Regions from separate parts of the Homo sapiens genome. Here region 1 is linked to region 2. The links come from fine-mapping of genetic effects on gene expression. A gene starts in region 2. The other region holds a variant in brackets. All regions are shown on one strand. Distances are from middle to middle. Region 1 overlaps UNKL (unk like zinc finger). Region 2 holds the start of CCDC154 (coiled-coil domain containing 154).

Evidence for each region. PIP is the estimated chance that this variant, and not a neighbour inherited with it, causes the effect.
Region 1: its variant is the best candidate, but not a certain one, in a credible set for the expression of CCDC154 in macrophages (Alasoo 2018, PIP 0.70).

The regions. Positions count from the first base shown.
Region 1 is chr16:1,391,123-1,399,434 of GRCh38, forward strand. UNKL (unk like zinc finger) reads right to left here. Exons shown (of 15, transcript NM_001372107.1): 5 at 8,252-8,312; 6 at 6,056-6,173; 7 at 3,009-3,093; 8 at 1,769-1,854. Among named protein-coding and RNA genes, the nearest start is that of UNKL-AS1, 13 kb to the right of the region's middle. The variant AT/A (reference allele first, on the strand shown) is at 4,043.
Region 2 is chr16:1,441,265-1,449,576 of GRCh38, forward strand. It overlaps CCDC154 (coiled-coil domain containing 154), which reads right to left and starts at 3,292. Exons shown (of 17, transcript NM_001143980.3): 1 at 3,052-3,292; 2 at 2,532-2,748; 3 at 2,242-2,431; 4 at 1,997-2,037; 5 at 1,616-1,711; 6 at 1,142-1,265. The coding sequence starts at 3,058. It overlaps CLCN7 (chloride voltage-gated channel 7), which reads right to left. Exons shown (of 25, transcript NM_001287.6): 18 at 8,012-8,063; 19 at 7,702-7,829; 20 at 7,417-7,502; 21 at 7,091-7,220; 22 at 6,391-6,450; 23 at 6,128-6,304; 24 at 5,742-5,822; 25 at 3,671-5,453. The coding sequence ends at 5,367.

The DNA of each region.
Region 1 (8,312 bases), 50 kb before region 2:
CTGGGTGATAGAGTGAGACTCTGTCTCCAAAAAAAAATACACACACACACACACACACACACACACACACACAATATATATGTACCTATTCAGCAGTACTCTTGGTCCCTTAAAGATACACACACACACACACACACACACACACACACACACACACACACATAAGCTCTGCTCAGAATTTAGACGAATGCTATTTTTGGTTTTGTTTTGTTTTGAGACAGGATCTCGCTCTGTCTCCCAGGCTGGAGTGCAGTGGCATGACCTCCCTGGCTAAAGCAATCCTCCTGTCTCAGCCTCCCAAGAAGCTGTGAGCACAGGCATTTGCCAGTGGACCCAGTTAATTTTTCAAAGCTTTCTGTAGAGACAGGGTCTTGTTATGTTGCCTAGGCGGGTCTCGAACTCCTGACCTCGAGCGATTGTCCCACCTCAGCCTCCCAAAGTGCCTGGTTTACAGGCGTGAGCCACTGCAACTGGCCAAAGATGCCAAATCTCGAAGGTCTCATGAAACAGAAGAGATGCCTGAACCTGCTGGCTCCCTGTCGGTTCTCCTGAGTTCCATTTCTTTTCTTTTCATTTTTTTTCTGAGACAAAGTCTCACTCTGTCATCCAGGCTGGAGTGCAGTGGCGCGATCTCAGCTCACTGCAAGCTCCACCTCCCGGGTTCAAGCAATTCTCCTGCCTCAGCCTCTGGAGTAGCTGGGATTACAGGCGCACGCCACCACGCCCGGCTAATTTGTGTATTTTTAGTAGAGATGGGGTTTCACCATGTTCATCAGGCCGGTCTCGAACTCCTGACCTCAGGTGATCCACCCGCCTTGGCCTCCCAAAGTGCTGGGATTACAGGCGTGAGCCACCGCGCCCGGCCCTGAGTTCCATTTCTTACATTTGAACGTGGCTCTCTGACCTTGGGTTGGTCCGTGTGAAGGCAGGGTGCCAGCTCTGCACTCCCTGAACCAACCATGGCATCAAACCCCAAACCGAGCCATTCACCTAAGGCAGAGGCTCAGGTGAAACTGTTAAGAAATATATGAAGGGAGTCAGAGTGTGCCACCCCAAAACATGCCACTCTTTGACAAAAAGATTATTTTGAGTTGAAGGCAGCTGAGAAACAGTAGATGCAGGAGCAGCTCTCTGCTTCCTTCCTGCCTCGAAGCCGGGCGTGAATTCCCTCTGTGAAGGTGTCCTCTCCCCTCTCCACACCAGGAGGAGAGACTGCAGATTGAGGCTGCATAACCAACCTCACTGAAGTTGCTCTTACCTTCCGCCAGTCTCCCCCATAGCCTTACCTTCCTAGAAGCCCAACCCCCTCTTCCCCCCTCTTTTTTTGTTTGAGATGGGGTCTTATTCTGTCACCCAGACTGAAGTGAAATGACGGGACCTCACCTCACCACAACCTCCGTCTCCTGGGTTCAAGTGATTCTCCCGCCTCAGCCTCCTGAGTAGCTGGGATTACAGGCACCCACCACCACACCTGGTTAATTTTTGTATTTTTAGTAGAGATGGAGTTTCACCATGTTGGCCAGGCTGGTCTTGAACTCCTGACCTCAGGTGATCCACCCGCCTCAGCCTCCCAAAGTGCTGGGATGACAGGCGTGAGCCACTGCCCCCAGCCTAGTGGCAAGGATTTTTCTAGACTCTTCTAGAAGAGCCACGAACTCCACAGACTGCCCACGACCACATTGCTGAAAACTCATATCCATCCACATCCCTAAGAGTTCAATTAAACCAAAGGACACTGGGCATTGTCCTGGGAAGGCCGTTCACTTACATTTCCCGGCTGGCCGCTGCCCGTGGAGGAAGGACTCGTGAGGTGGAGGTCGTGACAGCCCCATTCATTCACCATCCCCAGGCTCTCTGCAAGGACAGGGGAGCAGCAGACTCTGAGGGCCGCTGGTGGGCGACAGTGACACGCAGAAGTCTCCGCACCACACGTCAGGGCCGAGTGTGCGCAGCCTCGTCACAATCATCCCTCAGGGGTGCGGCAGAGGACGGCTGGGCAGTGGTGGGGACACTCAGGGCAACAGGACCCTCTGGTCTTAGACCAGTTTTTCATGTTTTTAACACTAAAAGCAATGTTTAAAACGTGAACAAGAATAGCTGCCCTCCCCACTAAAATAAAAAACAAAGGAAAATTTGAGCTTGTGACCACACACACAAAACCTGGAACCCAAATCCTAGGGCTGGGAGGAGGAGGCCGTGTGGGTTCCCACTGAACCCAAACCCCAGGGCTGCGAGGAGGAAACCCACTGCAGCGTGGAGGAGGCCGCATGGGTTCCCACTGAGTCCAAACCCCAGGGCTGCCAGGAAACCCACTGCAGCGTGGAGGAGGCCGCGTGGGTTCCCACTGAACCCAAACCCCAGGGCTGCCAGAAGGAAACCCACTGCAGCGTGGAGGAGGCCGCGTGGGTTCCCACTGGGGCTTGTTTCTGCTGCTGGGAACTTATTAGGGACCACATAATCGCCAAAGCTAAGCCCTCATCCCCTGGACAGCAAACGGGCTCTGGAAAGCACAGGGTCACCCTGAGCAACCCTGCTTGAGGGTCTCTGCTGTCTCCCCGAGCTGGGGCGGACAGACCCCCTCTCTCCACAAGGGAGGTGGTGCTCCTGGGTGGGTGCCTGGCAAGATGGCAGTCTCGGAGCAAGGCCCAGGCAGTGGGTGGCAGAAGGACCCAGCTTGGATGCCCAGGAGGCAGGTGGAGGTGCCAGCCAGCCCACACCAGGACTCAGCCTCCAGGCTCAGGGCCCCAGCGTGCCTGAAGACAGGGTCCCTGCAGATTCCACCAGGCCTGGCCCACGCCGGCGTGGAGGGAGCCCAGCCTCACATGGCACAAACACCCCAGGGAGCCTCCACGGGCATGTCAGGGACCCCCAGCCCCCAACCACGGTGCTGAGCTCCTGCCCGCCTTCCAGGTCCTCGTGGGCAGCTCCGGGTCATCGGTAACTCCAGTGAGGGCCTGCAGAGCCGCGGAACCTGCTAAGGTGAACCTGCCACAGGGACGGTTACTCACTCTCAACGTGTGCAAAGGCACAGAAGGGGCCGCGCGGGCAGTACCCGGTTTGGCGCATGTCGTTGCATTTTGTAGATTTGTAGATCTGGGGAAAAAAGTGAAATAAAGAGGTTGGATTGGAAATGGGATTCTGTGGAAAGACCACAGCTGGCATCATCCCAAGGGAGAGGATTAAGCTCCAAATCGTAACAAGACACCCCTGAAAAGGGGGGCGTGGGCCCTGCCCTCCTCCACGTGTGCCCTTGGTCCCCACATCCCTCCTCTCTGCAGAGCCGACCCACAGGGAACACGCACACATGTGGGGCCATTCCCGCAGCATCTGCCCTCCCATCACAGGCAAAGTCATTTCCCCGCTTGATATTTTCTGAAAGATGCACCAAATTCAGAGTCTGGTATGCAGCAGGTGCCTAATAAGTGCCTATTAAAAGGAACACGTGTGTCTGTTCCCTGATCAGACCCACTGACCCTTCACCTAGGGTGACAGCCCCTCTCATGAGGTCAACAACACTTAAGACCCGGCAAGGGACAGACCAGCCTGGAAGCCCCCAGTCGGCCTTGGGAGGCCTGGCCCAGCCCCTCCTGCTCCGTAGCTCTCCGTAAAGGACACGGCACCTGGCACGCCAGGCCTCCAGTGCCCACACCTGCCTGGGTCCCAGCAGGAAGCCTCTCTCCTGACCTCCGGCCTGGCCCCACCCCCCCATGGCCCTTCCACCACGTCGGGCACCCGGTGGGGTCCCGTTTGCTTGTTCATTTTGTTTGTTTTTTGAGAGAGAGTCTCGCTCTGTCACCCAGGCTGGAGTGCAGTCGCAAGATCTCGGCTCACTGCAACGTCCACCTCCCGAGTTCAAGTGATTCTCTTGCCTCAGCCTCCCAAGTAGCTGGGATTACAAGCATGTGCCACCACACCTGGCTAATTTTTGTAGTTTTAGTAGAGATGGGGTTTCGCCATGTTGGCCAGGCTGGTCTCAAACTCCTGACCTCGGCCCCACAAAGTGCCGGGATTACAGGCGTGAACCACCGTGCCCGGTCTGTTC[AT/A]TTTTTTTTTTTTTTTTTTTGAGCCAGAGTCTGGCTCTGTCGCCCAGGCTGGAGTACAATGGTGCCATCTTGGCCCACTGCAACCTCTGCCTCCTGGATTCAAGCAATTCTCCTGCCTCAGCCTCCTGAGTAGCTGTGACTACAGCCATGAGCCACCAAACCTGGCTAATTTTTGTATTTTTAGTAGAGACGGGTTCACCATGTTGGCCAGGCTGGTCTCGAACTCCTGACCTCAGGTGATCTGCCTGCCTCGGCCTCCCAAAGTGCTGGGATTACAGGCGTGAGCCACTGTGCCTGGCCTGTTTGTTTTTAATACAAATCTGAGTATGGTCCCTTGGCAACTACACGGCTGGGTGTGAACACAGCCTCCCTGTACCGTCCATACCCTGCACCTTCTAGTGGAGGCACAGGCCTGGCTCCATCTCAGGCTGCCCCTTCCGCCCCAGGAACCTCCTGCCTCGGAAGAGTCCTTGTTTACCTGGGGCGGGGCCCAGGCGGGAGGGTTTATCTCCCTCAGGATTTATGGTGCGGCTGTGGCCCACGTGGTGCCAGCTCCACTCAGCTGGGTACCAGAGACTGGGGTCTGCAACCAGGCCTGCGTGACTGAACACAGAAAACGCCCCGGACACCGGACTCCCGACAGGCCCCTGGTGACACCATTGAGTGTGTGGTCACCGACACCCAGAAAGCATGATGCGCGTCTGTGACAACATGAGTCAAGAAACGACGGGAAGCAGCGCCTGGTCCTTCCCAGCCCCTGCACGCCTCCCCCTTGGCTGAGGATTTTACTTTTTTTAGATAGAGTCTTGCTCTATCCCCCAGGCTGGAGTGCAGTGGCGCACTCTTGGCTCACTGCAACCTCAGCCTCCCAGGTTCAAGTGATCCTCGCGCCTCAGCCTCCAAGTAGCTGAGACTATAGGCGCGCACCACTACACCTGGCTAATTTTTGTATTTTTAGTAGAGACAGGGTTTCACCATGTTGACCAGGCTGGTTTCGAACCCCTGACCTCAAGTGATGTGCCCACCTCAGCCTTCCAAAGTGCTGGGATTACAGTGTGAGCCACCGTGCCTGGCCTGAACATGTGTTTTGTTTTGTTTTTTTTCCTTGAGATGGAGTCTCGCTCTGTCCTCCAAGCTGGAGTGCAGTGGCGTGATCTCGGCTCACTCTAAGCTCTGCCTCCCGGGTTCAAGCGATCCTCACGTCTCAGCCTCCCAAGTTCAAGTGCTCCTCGCGTCTCAGCCTCCCGAGTAGCTAGGACTACAGGCGCGCACCACCACACCCAGCTAATTTTGGTATTTTTAGTACAGACATGTTGACCAGGCTGGTTTCGAACCCCTGACCTCAAGTGATTTGCCCGCCTCTGCCTCCCAAAGTGCTGAGATTACAGTGTGAGCCACCGTGCCTGGCCTGAATATATATATTTTTTTCTTTTTCTTTTTTTTCCTGAGGCAGAGTCTTGCTCTGTTGCCCAGGCCAGAGTGCAGTGGCACGATCTCAGCTCACTGCAAGCTCCGCCTCCTGGGTTCACGCCATTCTCCTGCCTCAGCCTCCTGAGTAGCTGGGACTACAGACGCCCGCCACCACGCCTGGCTGATTTTTTGCATTTTTAGTAGAAACGGGGTTTTGCCAGGATGGTCTTGATCTCTTGATCTCGTTATCCAGCTGCCTCAGCCTCCCAAAGTGCTGGGATTACAGGCGTGAGCTACTGCACCCAGACCTGAATATGTATGTTTTTAATTGACATTTTCTCTCTGCTTTTTTCCCACATGACTCTTTCTTCTGTTACAGGCCAAGTGGAGAGACTCGCTGGCTGAGGGCAGCCCGAAGGCCAGCAAGCAAGACAAGCAAGCAGGTACAGCCCTCATGCCTCCACCCCCAGGCTTCCCGACCTGTGCCAGCCCTCGGCCAAAGTTAATCACTGTTCCTTCTGTGTGATAACCACGCTGTGAACCCCACAGCTTCTCTGGGACCTTCCAGCGACCCCTACGCCTGGGGGGTTGGAGGGACGTACCTCGGGATGGAACTGCTGCTCCGTGCGGGAGTGGCAATACTGGCAGCCGTCGCCGCCATCGCAGCGTGAGGGTTCCCCCCACTCATCCCCGTGCTTCACACTGGGGCAGGGCGTGGACCTGGGGATGAGGAGGTGTCAGGGGGACACAGAGGACTTGGCTCCCCGCCCCCCACCCCCGTGCTTCACGCTGGGGCAGGGCGTGGACCTGGGGATGAGGAGGTGTCAGGAGGACACAGAGGACTTGGCTCCCTGCCCCCCACCCCCGTGCTTCACGCTGGGGCAGGGCGTGGACCTGGGGATGAGGAGGTGTCAGGAGGACACAGAGGACTTGGCTCCCCCACCCCGACCCCCGTGCTTCACGCTGGGGCAGGGCATGGACCTGGGGATGAGGAGGTGTCAGGGGGACACAGAGGACTTGGCTCCCCCACCCCGACCCCCGTGCTTCACGCTGGGGCAGGGCGTGGACCTGGGGATGAGGAGGTGTCAGGGGGACACAGAGGACTTGGCTCCCCCACCCCGACCCCCGTGCTTCACGCTGGGGCAGGGCATGGACCTGGGGATGAGGAGGTGTCAGGGGGACACAGAGGACTTGGCTCCCCCACCCCGACCCCCGTGCTTCACGCTGGGGCAGGGCGTGGACCTGGGGATGAGGAGGTGTCAGGGGGACACAGGAAAACATGGTTCCTCGTGTGCCCAGGGGTGTCTGCCTCCCACCAGGAGGGGCCTCGGGCATGGGGCCCTGGAGTGACAGGCAACGCAGCTCTGCGCTCACGGACACGCAGGCCCGGCCAGTGCCAGGATGGGGTCAGGAGCCCCGGGGCTGTTCTTCACAGAATTTAACTTGAGTCTCAGTCAGAGCCACCCTCACGGACGTGGAGAACGCAGGGGAGAAGCAGCCGAACCTCCTGGGGACAGTGAGGCCGGGCGCCCAGACAGCACGGGGCTGTCTCCTCGCCAACTTTCTATAAAATGGAAGCGAGAGTTTTGATCCCACAATTTAAAACTCCGCACCAATTTCAAATTACCTATGTTCCTACTGCAGTGAGCTGAGACTGCACCACCGCACTCCAGCCTGGGCCACAGAGTGAGACTCTGTCTCATAAAAAAACAAAATCCTCTACTCTTCGTGGAATCTCTAGCTGCTTTATTGTAACTGATTTGTATTTATGGGACACATTAAGTGCCTGTTGAAAAAATAATTTTTATTTTCTTTCCATGACGGGCGATGACAAAATCTCAGACACTAATTTGTGGTTTGTTCTACAGCCGTTCAGGTCCTTTACTCGGAAGCTGCTCAGAGGGAGACTGAACGTGGCATAACAACAAGGAGTGGGGCGTCCTTCCCAAAGGAAGCACAGGTGCTCTCCGGGGCATGCGAGGCAGCACCAGGTCATTCAAAAGAGGCGAGGGTGGCTCTCTGCTCAAAGGAAGAGCTGGACACAGACAGGGCCTCAGGGAGGCCAAGGCCATGGCCCAGGCATCCAGACACCCTGTGGGGTCTGCACCCCCCCACCCCCCTCTCAGGTGCAAACTGCAGACAGGAGGCAAGCCAGGCCAGGCACAACCAGAAGGCCGGGCTGGAGCAAGGAGGAGAAAGGGGCTTCAGAGGCAAGCAGGCTGCGAGGTGCCAAACCCACAAGCCAGACCCAGGGGACAGCTGGGGCTCAGGCGGTGGAGGAAGGTCCTGTGTGCACCCTGGGCAGGGCGACCCTTGGGTTGTTGGCCCTGGGACTCAGCCTAAGGACCCGGCGTCCCAGCTGCCAGCTGTGAAGACAAGATTGAGCCCAGGTGACGACAGTGCCTGAGCCCCTGGCAGCTTGGGTGAGGAGACAGCATGCAGCCCACAGGCTGGAGAGCGTGGCTGCAACCAGAGGCACGGGTGGGGCACACGGGGGTCCCAGCTGGGCTTGGGGTCCCTCCTGCAGTGCTCCGTCCCCTTGCCTGGCAGAGGGGCCCCGGTAGGGGACTGCATGGGAGACACTGAGCGTAGGTGGGGAGGCCCATCCCCAGGACAGACGCGTGGGCCTCCATGGCACCTCCCACAGCCACTGTGCTTGGAGATGCCCTCCCCTCCCGGGGATGATGGTGCCACAAGGGCAGCCCTCCCATTAGAACCCCGGGGTGGGCAACGCGAGCCACGGGCCGGGAAGGACGCCCACCAGCCGGAGTCCTCTGAGCACGGTCCCGCAGGCTCACCTGTACTGGAACCGCCGGGGGTTGCGCCGCCTGTCCCGGCTATTGTGGTAGTGTGGGCACG
Region 2 (8,312 bases):
GCCTGCTCCACACGGCCACTCAGTAACTTCCTGAAGGGCAGTGAGAGGGAGGCTGCCGGCTCCGGGCAGTGGAGCTATGTGGGTGGCAGCTGGGTGCCCCGGCAGTCCTGGCCCCTCACCCAGCGTACTGCCTGATGCGCACGGGAGCTGGCTGCAGTCCCCGGTCTCTATTTGTGGAGCTCAGACCCGGGCTGCTGAAATGTGCAGCTGCCCGTTCCCTCCCCACCCACAGCGGAGGCCCCTGCTGAGGCCACAGCAGGAGGGGGAGCCACTCCAGCCCCGTGGGTGGGACCCTGGCTTCTAGGAACTCGTGTCCTCGAGGAAGGTGAACTCCGCTTTGTGTGCAGGGAAAGGTGGAGCCCGAGAGTGGCCGTGGAAGGGGCTTCGGGGCTGCGATCTGTGGACCCGGGCAGGCGCTGGCTGTGTGGGGAGGGGTGGAGGCGGCAGGACACAGGCAGCTTCCTGGGACGAAGAGCGCCCAGATCTGCAGCTGCCGGCCCCACGTGGCAACTGAGCTTTTTTTTGAGATGAGGTCTCGCTGTGTTGCCCAGGCTGGTCTTGACTTCCCAGGCTCAAGCGATCCTCCCGCCTCGGCCTCCCAAAAGTGCTGGGATTTACAGGCGTGTGCCACTGCACGTGGCCTGAGCTTTTGTTTTTTTGTTTTGTTTTGTTTTTTGAAATGGAGTCTCACTCTGTCACCAGGCTGGAGTGGCGCGATCTCAGCTCACTGTGACCTCCTCCTGCTGGATTCAAGCAATCCTCCTGCCTCAGCCTCCTCAGTAGCTGAGGCTACAGGTGCCCGCCACCACACCTGGCTAGTTTTTTGTATTTTTAGTAGAGATGGGGTTTCACCATGTTGGCCAGGCTGGTCTTGAACTCCTGACCTTGTGATCTGCCCGCCTCAGCCTCCCAAAGTGCTGGGATTACAGGCGTGAGCCACCGTGCCCAAACAACCTGAACTTTTGAAATGGGGCATGTGCGGCTGAGGAATTGAGTTTTACATTGTCTACAACTATAGCTGATTTCAGTGGACACAGATACATGGTGAACGGCCGCTGTATCGGATGGCACAGGCCGAGAGGGTTAGGGTCTCCTCCTCGGCCCTCTGGGCGGCCCCCCTGAAGCCTGGGCCTGGTGGTACCTGCATTCTGGCCACCTCCAGGTCCACCCTCCGGCTGCTGTCCTCTTGGTTCTTCTGCAGGGCGCCGCAGGCCACCTCCCGGCCCTGCTCCTCCTGCTGCAGCAAGTCGGTCAGCTTGGCCAGTCTAGAGAAGTCGGCTGTGGTCACACCAGCCCAGCTGGCCGGAGGGCCCAGCAGGGTGAGGCTGACCCACAGGCTGGCCAGGCAGGAGGTGTACGACCCCCGCCCCCTGCCCCACCAGAAAACAGAGGAATGGGAAACACAGCACCGGTGGCAGGGAAGGGCTGCTGCGAGTCTCTTCCCCACAGAGGGTCCGCAGCGGGCCCAGGCTTCCCAGCACGCTTGGCACCGAGGGCGGTGCCCCGCCGGGTTACTGGGGACACACGGCAGGGGGACCCGTGTCTTGGCTCAGCCAGGGACTCTCAAATGACCCCACGCAAGCTCCGGAGCCAGCCACGGGCGGTGGGCGCCCACCTGAGGCCGGCCTCTTGCTCGGCGCCCCTTCTCTCCGCCTCCTGTTGCACCTGCCTCCTCCTGAGCCGGGTCAAGGCTTCCCGGACCTCCACCAGCCTGGGACACAACAAGCCATTCCCGAGAGGCCCAGGCGGGCTGAGCAGCCTCGGCGGGCTGGGGGTCTGGCCAAGGGGCCCCTGTGGCCACCTCCCATGGCTTTCCTGGGCCTCTGAAGGCCGCCCAGGCACGTACAAACCCGGCCTTTTCTAGCTGGACCTGGATGTGTATCCCCCACTCCAGCGACACCCAGCGGGAGATGTGGACCCCCCACCACACCTGCCGCTGCTTTCTCGCCACCACCTCCCCGCCCTGGGCCTGTGCCCCTAGGTGTGTGGGGGGTACCTTTTGTCCAGGGCCTGCATCTGGTTCTGGAGACCAGAGAACTGCGAGGAGGAAGAGGAGGCTGTGGGCTGGACCTAGGCCCGGGTCTGGCACCTGCCCCTGGAGTCCACCCAGCTCCGGCACCACTGGCCCCTGGGAGCTCTGGGCCTGGGCAGCAGGGGTGAGCTGGGCTCCAGGCCCAGAAGCAGCTGCCCCCAACACCCAGGAAAGGGGCAGCTCGACCTGTGGGTGGGGGAGCCGCTCACCTCCGGCGCCTCCTTTTCGGGGGCCTGGGCTGCCGGCCGCGCCTCCTGCTGCAACTGCCTCAGCTCTGAGCCCTGCAGCTGCACGCGGGCCCGCACCTGGAGCAGCTCCCGCAGCAGGCTCCGCGTGGCGCGCTCACAGCGCTGCTTGTGCTCCCGCAGGCAGGCCACCTCGGCCTGCAGCTCCACCACCCTGGCCGGGGCGAGAGTGGGCGAGTCTGGCGGTGCCCGCCGTGGAGGCGGAGGCGGCGGCGACGTGGTCCTCCCCCGCCAGCACCCCCTGCAGGGCTCACCACTGCTCCAGCTGGTTCCAGTGCTTGGCGGTGTCCTGCTCGGGGACAGAGGCCGTGGATGTCGGATGGCTGGACTCATACCTCTCCGAGAGCTCCTCCAGGCTCAAGGGCTCGGGGCTGGCCAGGCCTCCTGCCAGGAGGAGCCCCAGGTCTTCCAGGGTGACGGCTCTCAGCTGGGAAGGGGCCGATGCCCCTGAGGGTCCACTGTCAGCCAACTCTACAAGGAGGCATCTTGGGAGCTTGCCCCTTGGGGCCCGGCCCCCACTGGAGCTTACGGGAACAAGGCCCCAAACCCCCGCAGGACCCTCGCCCACCACCCAGAGCTCAACGCGTCTCCTTGGGTCACACAGGATCCAGACGGGCTTGGCTCAGACAAGTCCAGGGCCCTGCCTGAAGACACACAGCACTGGGCGGCAGGAACAAGCGAGCTGGAGGGAGCCCGGGGTCAGAAGCAGAGCGGTCCCCACCCTCACACCTGTGGCAAGCCCCTCCCTGGGCCCCGCTCCTCCGCTCTGGTCACCTGACATGGCTGCTGGGCTGCACCGGCCACCCTGCCCTCGGCTGTAGCTTGGGCCTTGGGGCCTCTGAGGTTGCCCAGAGCTGGGCACAGGCCAGGGGGGTCAGGAGCCAGAGGAAGTCCCGTGAGAGCTCTGGGCCTTGAGGGACGAGCTGCTGCCCTCGTCTGGCTGCCTTCTCAGGGTCCCCAGGGAGGCAGGTGTGGGGCAGCGGGGCCGTTCCAGAACCTTCCTTCTCTCCCCAGAACCTCACGGCTTCACAGCCCAACTGCCAATGGAACTCTAGCCCTCAGCTCTCCCACTCCCGCAGGGCCCCCCAACTGCCTGCTTCTGGATGGATCTGAGGGGCCCCACTCCCGAGAGGGCGCAGACACGTGTCCTCTGGCAAAGGGGACTTCTTCAGCTGCCGAGGGAGGGGAAGGAGGCCCTGACGAGGCCTGGGCACGCCGGGAGGGACGCTGGGAGCAGGGAGGCCGAGAGCCCCAGGACACCCCGGACACAGCCAGGCCCACGTCCGAGCGGAGCCCGAGGCCTGGGCAGCGCCATCGGGGTGAGGGGCACAGCCGGGCTCCACGGGAACCCATCTTGCTCAGCAGCCCCATTAAAAGGCAAGAAGCAGCGATGTGAATCCTAACCGCTGATTTTATTTAACCGAATATATCCAAAATATGATCACTTCCAGGTCCTCAGTACACAACCACCACGAGGGAAACCCAGACCTAGGTTTCCGGCGCCGACTCTGAGGCCCGGGAGTTTTCTTCTTGCGTCACCCCAGCGTGGGCACCCCGGCCCGCCCCCCTCCACCTGGAGCGCCTCTGCCTTGCCCCCAGACCCACCAGCCAGGAGCCAGAGGAGGGAGGCTGAGGGGCGGGGACGAGGAAGAGGATGTGGCTGGTGCCCTGGGTGGCCGCAGCCGCTGTCTTTCACGCCTTTCTCACTCCACACGGTGCCCCGACCCCAGGGTCCCGAAAGTCCCAGGCTGTTGGACGTGGTCTGGGTGGGGTGGGAGGGACGACGCTGGCAAAGGCGGGCTGAGAGGATTTCTTTATTTCGCGTTCAGACCCAACACACTCGGACACCTTGGGGCCCTGTGAGGGCTAAGCAGGGTGGTGGCGTCAGCTCCCGGGGAGGCCCCACTCCCTGGGGAGGAAATACACGGCAGGGGGCCGCACCCAGCCCCCCACGGAGGGACCCGTGTTGCTCTAACAGGGACACTGAAGTTGCCTCTGCCGCCCCGTGAGGGGCCTGTGGCGGCCCCAGACCCAGCCCAGCCAGGCCAGAGGAGCCTCCCAGGGGCCCTCAGGTGGTGAGGTGGGGGCTTCCCGGCCCCGGTGCCCACCGGCCCTTCTAGCTGCCTGTGCTGGGCCAGGTGTCCTCTGAGGCCGGCAGGAGTCTGGCCCCCGCTGCACCTGCGCTTGGTGGCTGGCAGGGGCGGGGTAGGGAGGTCACCCTCGAGGCCGGGGTCCCCATGTGCTAGGGGAAGACCTGCCTTCCCAGCCAGTGTCCACAGGGCAGCAATTCCACGCTCTGAGGCTCAGGGACCAAGGCAGGGCTGGGTGTGGGGCCCAGACTCCAAGCTCTGGGGGTTGGGGGACCAAGGCAGGGCTGGGCATGGGGCTCAGGGCCTTGGAGGTTTTTCTCAGCTCTCAACATCACAGCACAGGGCCCGTGAGTCACCCCAGTCCTCTGGGCCTGTGTACCCAAGCCGGATGCAGGCCGGGGAGTGCACGTGGGGCTCCTCTGTGGCGCCAGTGTGAAGCTGCTCTCCGGGGCGGTCGCAGCCTCCAAACCCTGGTGCTACGAGTCCGTGCCTCAGGCCCAGGGACCACAGGCCGTCTGCTCATGGCTGAAAATGAGGCCAAGCAGCTCCCAAGTCTCGAAGACTCCACTGGTGTGGAGGCAGAGGGGCCCTTCCAGGGCAGGGCAGCCCTCGGGGCAGCAGCAGGGGCAAGGGCTCTGTCTCACGCACACGGGCACAGGCACGCAGGTGCCGGCCCTGCCGCTGGCTCCCAAGAGGCCGATAGCCCGGTAGGGAGGTCACACACACACAGCTGATCCCTGGAGGTAAAGAAACCTAGACGAGGAGAGTGGAGGCTGGGCCTGCGCAAGGAGGCGCCAAGGGGGGAGACCACTGCCCACAACAGGGTCAGTCCCGCGAGAGGGTCAGTTCCGCGCCTGCCGCCTGCCCGCCCAGCTGCAGGGTGCTCGCCATTGCCACTGCTGGGGAGCATGGTTTGGGCCGAGAAACCAGTGACTCCGGGAGGAAATGCAGAAGGGCCGGGGTGCCAGCGCCAGTGCCCATTATGGGCAGGGCTGGGCCTCACGTCTGGGCCAGCGAGAGCTCCTCCAAGCCTCTCTTTCCCAGGCGGTACCTGGCGAGGTCCTTCCTGGTCACCAACCCGACAACCTGCAGGACAAGTCCAGGCCACAGTGACACACGGGTCGGCTCCCGCCTGCCTGTGGAGCTCCCTGCCTTGTGTGTGGCTGGGGCAGCACAGGCAGGGGGCCCTGGGGGCTTCAGCACAGCCCCCGAGCTGAGCACGGGGCTGGGGAGGGGTGCAGCCATGGGGCATGGGCCGACTCGGTGCTGGGTCCTGTGCTTCCGTGTCCCCTGCCGGGAGCTGAGAGTAAGCACGGGCAGGAGGCAGAGGGGAGCCCTGCACGGCATGCCTGCACCCCCACCGCCCCCGCTCACCTGATTGCGGTTGTCCACCACCACCAGGTGCCGCAGGCCCAGGGCCCGGAACAGCTTGAACACCCGTGGGAGCGACGCCTCCTGCAGCAGGGGCACAGCTGTCAGTGCCCGCCCACACAGCAGAGGCAGGCGGGACCCTCACCCAAGCTGGCTCCCTGCACCCCCCACCACGGCGTCCAGGCACGTCCTGAGCCCCCACGCCCGTCTGGCCAGCCCCCTCAGCCCCTTGACTTCAGCTCTAAAGCCTGCCAGGCCCTTCACAGGAGACAGAGTCACCGAGTCCTCTCCGCTGTGGCCCCCCCCGGCTGCCCCTCCCCGAGGCTCTGGACCCCACCCCCTGCTGTTCAGTCCCAGGCCCCACGCCCATGCCCATGCCCTGCACATGCCTGGGGCACCGTGTAGGGGGAGGGGTTCATGAACTCGGAGAGGTCCATGGTGCACTCCCGCTCGTCCTGGGACACGTGGATGGACTGGATGGGTGGGAAGCGCGGGTAGGCGTCTCGGAAGTCCTTCAGCCTCAGGCGCCGCTGTACCAGGCCCAGGTTGGACCGCTCCACAAACACCTGCGGGCGGCAGAGCCCTGTGTCAGGCACCCAGGCAGCACCCCCGGGGCCCCCACCCGCCCAATGGCCCGGAGCCTGGCACGCACCTTGTGCTTTAGGAGAACGATGAGCTGGGAGCGCAGGATCAGGCCCTGGAGCCGGGCAGGCTGCAAGACAGGCCCGCGGTCAGGGCCACGGGCCCGAGGGTGGGAGGCTGCGCTGGAATGCTGTGTCGGGCCCCGCTCTGACCCTGTTCCGGCCAGATTTCCCATCTGGGCATGGGCCCCGTGTCGGTGGCTACCTGCTCACACCAGCCTCGCCATGGCATCCCACACGCACAATGCCACGGGACCCAAGGATCGGCGACAGGGTAGCGGGGCCTGACCGCGCACAGCAGAGAGCCAAGGGCCCAGGGATGGTGGCTTTGCTGCAGGGCAGATGCAGCCCCACTGGGTCCCAATAAAAACCAACCTCCAAACACCCAGTGTCCACGTCTAAAAGACACACAGCAGTGGCCGAGCTGTGTGTCCTGTCAGGGCCTCCTGACAAAGTCACGGCCCCCAGTGCCACGGCTCTCAGCCCAGCCTGGGTGCCAACCCCAAGACCCTGCCAGGCCGCAGCCCCCCCCACCAGCCTCAGCGTCCACACAGCCCTCCATGGCTGCACACTCAGCTTCCGGCACTCCTGGAACTGCCAGTGCACCCAAACGTGCAGCTTCCCCATCCTGCAAACCTTGCCGTGTGCTTCCCACCAATGGACTCGACAGAGGTCACATAGGCAGGACCCTGTCTATGGGGTGCCCGGTACCTGGGTGTCATCGGCATGCTCCACCACGGGGAAGCCGTTGTGATTGGACGCCGTGTCGCTCAGCACGTCCACAATGACGCCGACCTTCTCACGCCGCCTCAGGCAGGTCACTGGTGTGCTCATCACCTCCCTGCCGGAGGAGCCCGGCCACACATGCCCGTCACACGCCACCAACTCCCACAGTTACCTCTGCGGGCTGGTGAGGTGTGAAGCCGCTGGACAGGAAACGCGGGGCTGCCTGGAGCCCGCAAGCCGTGCACCCTGCCCCTGTGCAACAAGAGGCCGCTGGACACCCTCCCCACCCACAGGTGTCCTGGGCGCTGTACCTGGCAGTGAGTGAGTGTGAGGTGACCGGGGCCTCCCAGTGCAGGAAGGGCACACTCTGCAGCTGAATGTGCATGTCGTACAGGCCCTGCGGGCGGGGCGGGAACACAGGGCTTGAGGAGTCCACACCCACCCCTGGAGCCCCGAGCCTACCCCTGGGAGCCCAGAGGCCGCCCCCAGAAACCCTGAGCCTACCCCCCGGGACCGGCTGTTTGGAGGCTCACAGGGGCCCCTCCCCTATGGCAGCACCCACGCTCTCAGGGTGAGGCTTCGAGGCCCTGGCGCACCTCAATGAAGACGTCGCCCACGATCTTGGCGGTCATGAGCACCAGCATGATGGGGAAGCCGTAGGTCACGTTGCTGGTGGCCTCCATCATGATGACGGTCAGGCTCAGTGTCATCCGCACAATCCCGCCTGCGGGAGCCATCATGAACCCCAGCACGTCCACCCTCCTGGCTCAGGGTCACGTGGCCACTGCCTTCTCTGCAGCACCCATCCCATCCACCTGCTCCCAGACCCTAGCCCCGCAAGGACAGCCATGGCCCCCTCCAGACCCCGTGGAGCTCCCCACCCATCGGGCAAGAGCTGGGACATACCCAGCTGGGCAGCAGCTCCCATCAGGGCGTATTTGCCGGGGTCCGCCCAGATCTGTGGGAGGTGACACGGAGGAGGTGTCAGTGTGGTGGCAGGCCCAAACCCACCAAGATACACAGACGGAGGAGGCCCTGCCCAGGCCCAGCAGCCCCACAGCCAGGAACAAACCTCGTGGCCGCGTACATACACACAGAACAACCTAGCACAGTACACCCTGCTGCGGAGGCTGCATCCTTGGCCTGAACCAGGCGCTCAGCACCCGAGCAACAGGGGAGTGGCAGGCATGGAGGATGCAGAGGGCAC